Regions from separate parts of the Homo sapiens genome. Here region 2 is linked to region 1. Evidence: fine-mapped QTL for protein levels in blood plasma. A gene starts in region 1. The other region holds a variant in brackets. All regions are shown on one strand. Distances are from middle to middle.

Region 1 (2,892 bases):
CCAGCCTCCAGCTGTCGGGGGAGGGGGTTATTGTCCCCCAGCCCTGGGCGAGAAAAGAAGGGACAGTGAGAGGGAAGGCTTCTGAGGAGGGAGAGGTCCTGCCTGCCTCCCCACCTGCCACAGAGCCCCCTGGGGCCTTTTGAAAGGCAGACACTCCCAAATCCAAAGGAAGAGGTCTGGAGGAATGTTTTCACAGGCGCCAGCCTCCCCACCACCATGCCCTGGGTTGGGGTGCCAGGGAAGAAACCCTGTCCCCAGAGCAGGTGGGGAAGGGCCCTGGAGGCATGGAGCCCCCCAGCCTGCGCTCCCCGGCAGAGGGCTGAGGGGTGGAGGGCCGGGGGGTGAGCACGCATGCTGAGCCACTGTCTCCCCCCACCACTGTCTCCAGATGGGGGAGTCGGGGGTGGCAGGAGCCGTGGTGCCCTCAGGGGCAGCTGCTGGAGGGTCTGGCTGGCCAGGCGCCTGGTCAGCTGCCAGGGGCTGAAATTGGAGCCAGCTGGAGCTGGGAGGCCTGTGGGAATGAGGGGACTCAGGAAGCCCCTTCAGTGGGGGCTGGGAAAGGAGTGGCTTCCCTTACTCACTGTGTCCAGCACTCCCTGACCACCCCAGGACCACAAGAGCAATGAATACTGTGAGCACCGCTAAGCCCTTTATGTGCATTCTCTCTCGAATTGGCCAGAGAGAGGCTGCCCTCTTGTACCCAGTGACGTCCCAACCACAGCCGGCCATGCCCCAGCCCAGCCCAGTCCCTGGGGGCTGAAGCCACTGAGGCCACATCCTCCATGTCTAGGTCCCCCTAGGGTGTGAGGAGACGTGGCTCCAGCTAGGCAGTACCCATGTCGGGTGTGGGGGGCTGAGGCCTGGGCTTCCTTCCACTCTGGCTTGCTCCCACGTTGGAGAGACCACGGTGCCAGCAGTCCAGACAAGATTTTTAGGGGCAGAGTCCAGCAGCCTCTGGGGGCTGGGCCCCCAGGCCTGATCACCCCAGGCAGCTGCGGCAGGGTCCCAGGTGAAGCCCAGGAACAGAGCCCCCAGGGCTGCCACACGCCACTCTGCAAGGCCGTGTGTTGCGACCTGGCTCGGGCTGGGCCCTCCCAATCGAGAAGTAGCCGTGAGGGTGAGTTCCTGGGGGCAGGGCCTGCAGCCACCCCTGCTGGCCAGGAACTTGGGGTGGGGGGTTTGGACAAAACCCAAGACTAGCCAGGGGTCCTGTGCCCACCGCAGGGAGTCCCTATAGAAACCTGGCCCCCAGCCCCCCAGAGAGGGGCACTCCTGCCGCTCCCCCCTCTCTCTGCTCCACTCAAGACTGGCAACCCCCAGACCCCGGCAGCGGTTCCTCCAAAGAGAGGGCACGGCTACCTGGGTGGCCCCTGCCTGGGGTCCCTGACCCCAGCAGCACTCTGCAGTCCTGGGGGTGATTCCACCAGATGGAGTGTTTGGTTACACTCACTCCCCACAACCCCTGGGGTGCTGCCCCCAGCCCAGGGACCCACCCGGAGCCACTCCGCTCACAGGCCCCCAAAGGCGACCAGGGCCAGTGGTTCTGGGGGAGACCTGTGCGGCTGCAGTTGAAGACACTGTCCCGCAGCGTCGAGGGAGGCAGCGGGGACCCCCGCAGGTGCCGATGCCTTACCTGGGCCAACAGCCCGAGGACGAGGAGGAACGCGGCGTCCATCGGGGCCGAGGCGGGAGCCGGGCCGGAGTGCACCCGCGACCCGAAGAAGCGCGTCCAGGCTGAGTGACAGCGCAAGTGCGCGGGGCGGGCCAGGGCCAGAGACAGAGACAGCACGTGTGAGGGGGGCGGGGAGGGGGCGGGGCAAGGGCTGAGTGACAGCACGAAGGAGGCCTCTGACGGGCCGAGGGCCGGCCTGGGCAGGGCTAAGGCTGAGTGACAGCGTGTTGGCAGGCGGGTGGGGCGGAGCCTCTGGCGAGCTAGGGCGGGGCGCAGGCTGAGTGATAGCCCGTGTGCGAGTGGGGCAGGCGGGGCGGGGCCGGGGCCGAGGGCTGAGTGACAGCGCAGGTGCGCCGGCGGGGCGGTGACCGCACGAGGCTGGTGGGGCGGAGCCAGAGGAGGATGGGGCGGGCGGGGCGGGGCCGAGGGCTGAGTGACACCTTGTGAGAGTGCGGGGTGGGGCCGGGGTGGGGCCGGGGCGGGGCCGAGGGCTGAGTGATAGCTTTTGCGGGGTTCCGGCGGGCAGGGCCAGGGCTAGGTCGGAGATACCCCGGCTTGCTGCGTTGGGAGCAGAGCCAGAGGCCAGGCTGTGGGGAAGGCAGGGTGGGTGCGTCCGGGTCAGGGACCAGCTGGGATTCCTGGCTTCTTCATTTCCTGCTCCTTGGGCCCGGCTCGCCCCTGCTCCAGGGAATCTGCATTGTAGTCCCTGCCGGGGGACACCTCTTGAGCACTTCCTTGGGCCCCTCGCCTCTCTGGCTGCGTCTCCTGCGCCTCCCCGCATCCCACTGAACGCTAGGCCCGCCTTCCACGCACCTCCTCGCGACCTCATTTTGCCCAGCTCTTATTCAGTATGGAACTGCTCTGGTTCACACGCCTCTGATACCAGCGTGGCTCGTAGGACACCCCCAATTCCCCCAGTCCACGCACCTCCTCCAGCATCCCCTTGTTCCCCGAGGCCCCCTGCCTGGAGCACCTTCCTTCCTACAGAACTCCTTCTCATCATCCCTCAACACCCAAGGTCAACGCTGCCGCCTCCTGGAGCCTCCTTGCCACCTCGGCCAGAAGCCCTCCCTCCTGTTGACTGTGGCACCTGTTCTCCCCTTCGAGACCCCGCCCCCTGGGATGGTGTGGGTGTGGCTCAACACCTGCACAGGCCCAGCGCACGGTCAGGAAGGTCCTGGAGAGGGGGTGGAGGGGGCTGGAGGCAGGAGGATCCTTTC
Region 2 (2,892 bases), 13 kb before region 1:
ACCTACTGTGCGCTGGGTGTTCACAGAGCACCTACTGTGCGCTGGGTAAGCGTTTACAGAGCACCTACTGTGCGCTGGGTAAGCGTTTACAGAGCACCTACTGTGCGCTGGGTGGGCCTTTACAGAGCACCTTCTGTGCGCTGGGTGAGCCTTTACAGAGCACCTACTGTGCGCTGGGTGAGCGTTTACAGAGCACCTACTGTGCGCTGGGTGAGCCTTTACAGAGCACCTTCTGTGCGCTGGGTGAGCCTTTACAGAGCACCTACTGTGCGCTGGGTGAGCGTTTACAGAGCACCTACTGTGCGCTGGGTGAGCGTTTACAGAGCACCTACTGTGCACTGGGTGAGCGTTTACAGAGCACCTACTGTGCGCTGGGTGTTCACAGAGCACCTACTGTGCGCTGGGTAAGCGTTTACAGAGCACCTACTGTGTGCTGGGTAAGCGTTTACAGAGCACCTACTGTGCGCTGGGTAAGCCTTTACAGAGCACCTACTGTGCGCTGGGTAAGCGTTTACAGAGCACCACTGTGCGCTGGGTGTTTACAGAGCACCTACTGTGCGCTGGGTAAGCATTTACAGAGCACCTACTCTGCGCTGGGTAAGCCTTTACAGAGCACCTACTCTGCGCTGGGTAAGCGTTTACAGAGCACCTACTGTGTGCTGGATAAGCGTTTACAGAGCACCACTGTGCGCTGGGTGTTTACAGAGCACCTACTGTGCGCTGGGTAAGCATTTACAGAGCACCTACTCTGTGCTGGGCACCTAGCACACCAGTGAGCTTGGGTCCCTGCCCTGGGGAACCGTGGTTAGTGGCAGGAACAGAAATGGACAAAGACCACGTAACAGTGTAACCAGGAGGGCTTCCTAGAGGAGCTGACTCAAGGGGGGTCTTCCGGGAGCACCGAAGTCCGACAGCAAGGGGCAACAGGGGCCCTGACAGAAGGAGTTAGTTACTTACCAGCGGGGAGCCGTTGCCATGAGGCTGAGAGGGGCGGGGCTGCTTGGGGAGCCCTGCCCTGTGCCGGGCCCCTCACGCCCTACTTGCACCAGACCCCTCCCACCCGGGCCAGCGCGGCTCCTGTCTGCGCATCAGTGGGTTCACCCCATGCCATCTCCTCAGGAGCCAGGGCCACTGCAAGCTCTGCAGTGACGGCAGGGACAGGAGCGTCTGGGGTGGGCAGGCTGGGGGCAGAGGGACCCGCAGGAGATGGGCTGCCCTGGCCGTGCGGGTGTGGAGCTGCCGGGGCGCCACCTCACCTCGCGGTCCAGCCCCACTTGCACTGTGCGGATCTCTCCTGTGAGCTCGTCGATGCTGAAGAGCT[C/T]GGGGCTGCCCTGCTGCAGGATGGAGAACCGCAGCGCTGCGTTGTCCGTCTCGGGGTCGTCGGCATCTGTGGCCTCTGCCCTGGTCACATAGGTGCCTGGGAAGCACAGGGAGGCGTGAGGGCCAACGTCCACAGGGCCGATGGGCTGGGGGCATTGTGAGGGGCGTGGGGGCACCTCGTGTGCACAGGCTCCCCGGTTCCAGCACGGCTGACCCCAGATGGGGCAGTCAGTCCATGCTGCTGTTTGCGTCACCGAGGCGGCCAGCATGCGGCAACCCCCAGGTCGAGATGCTTCCCGCTGCCCCTGAAGCCCACCGTGCTGTGTCCAGGCCACCTATGTGGTCGAAGCCTTTTGCCCGGCTTGTGCTGTTTATGGGGTCGGAGCACAGGAGCATTGGATGCGACCTGGGTCAGGTGCTGGCTCCTGGGCCTGCCCAGTGCAGGGGCTAAGGGCGCTGGGTCAGATTGGGCTAGCTAGCGGGGGCCTCCAGGAGCTGCTGGCATCCAGGGTGACAGAGGATGCATGGGCAGGCTGAACAGAGGACACACGGGCAGGATAAGACAGAGGACGCACGGGCAGGCTGGGCAGAGGACGCAGGGGAAGGATAAAACAGAGGACGCACGGACAGGATAAGACAGAGGATGCAAGGGCAGGATAAAACAGAGGATGCGCGGGCAGGCTGGGTGCAGGACACACGACAGCCGAGCAGAGGACGCGCACTGTGACTGTGTAGGCCAGAGCCCCCGCCCCACCTGCTGTGGGAAGCGGTACTCACGAAGGTGCCGCTAGAGGGACCACATATGGCAGGACCAGGTTTCACCTCCCCCCATTTCCCTCTCCTGAGATTTAGGCCTGACCCCTCTGGCAGCTCAGGTGGACTTAGCCACCGAGGTGGGGTGGGAAGGACGGGCTTTGGGCCACCCTGGGGAGCAGCTCCTGGCTGGCTGTGACTTCCCCCCGGGACAGCTGGAGCTAGGACGTGCTGTCTGTCACCTGGGGCAGAACGAGGCGCGGAGGCCACTGCCACAGACACGGGAAGGAAACTGAGGCGGGATATGAGCCTCCAAGCCTGAGCCTGGGCCAGGCCTGGCCACAGTCCTTGGTAGCCTCAGACACGAGGGGGCCTGTGCCTTTCCACCAGGTCTTTACCACCGGCCCCCAGGGAGGTGGGAGCGAGTCCCCGTGGCTGGAGCTTACAGGTCAGCCTGGGTTTAGGGTGAATCACAACCTAGAGATGCCTGTGGGTGCTCTGGACCCCATGTGAGTACAGGGTGAGGATGGAGTGTGCCTGGCTCCAGATGGCCCCCTCAGCAGGAGGGAGAAGTCATTTGCTTTTGGGGGAGAACAAGACCCCTGAAAAACCTCCACTCCCAGGCTCAGATTTTTGGGTTTGAAATTTATGTTGGAATGGGAAGTGGCAGGAGTTGACCTGTGGAAACGGACCTGCCTCGGAGACTTGTTTACTTATTTTTAGACTCTGAGGGGCCTCTGGAATTCTTGCTTAAGGGAAGTCCTGGACTTCACAGAGCCCTTCCTTGCAGCCCCTCCCGGCCCGGGGCTGTGGTCCTGT

Evidence for each region. A credible set is the group of variants that fine-mapping cannot tell apart. PIP is the posterior inclusion probability: the model's chance that the variant is causal. The UK Biobank Pharma Proteomics Project read protein levels with antibody pairs (Olink). The fine-mapping took linkage between variants from a reference panel, not from the people measured, so its PIPs are less certain.
Region 2: its variant is the best candidate, but not a certain one, in a credible set for the plasma level of the CDH15 protein (UK Biobank, PIP 0.71). The variant lies in the coding sequence of CDH15. If it changes the protein, the assay may bind it differently, which can mimic a change of level.

The regions. Positions count from the first base shown.
Region 1 is chr16:89,170,615-89,173,506 of GRCh38, reverse strand. It overlaps CDH15 (cadherin 15), which reads right to left and starts at 1,759. Exons shown (of 14, transcript NM_004933.3): 1 at 1,634-1,759. The coding sequence starts at 1,675. RefSeq lists a silencer at 1,684-2,323.
Region 2 is chr16:89,183,698-89,186,589 of GRCh38, reverse strand. CDH15 (cadherin 15) reads right to left here. Exons shown (of 14, transcript NM_004933.3): 5 at 1,257-1,417. Among named protein-coding and RNA genes, the nearest start is that of CDH15, 13 kb to the right of the region's middle. RefSeq lists a silencer at 915-1,209. The variant C/T (reference allele first, on the strand shown) is at 1,322.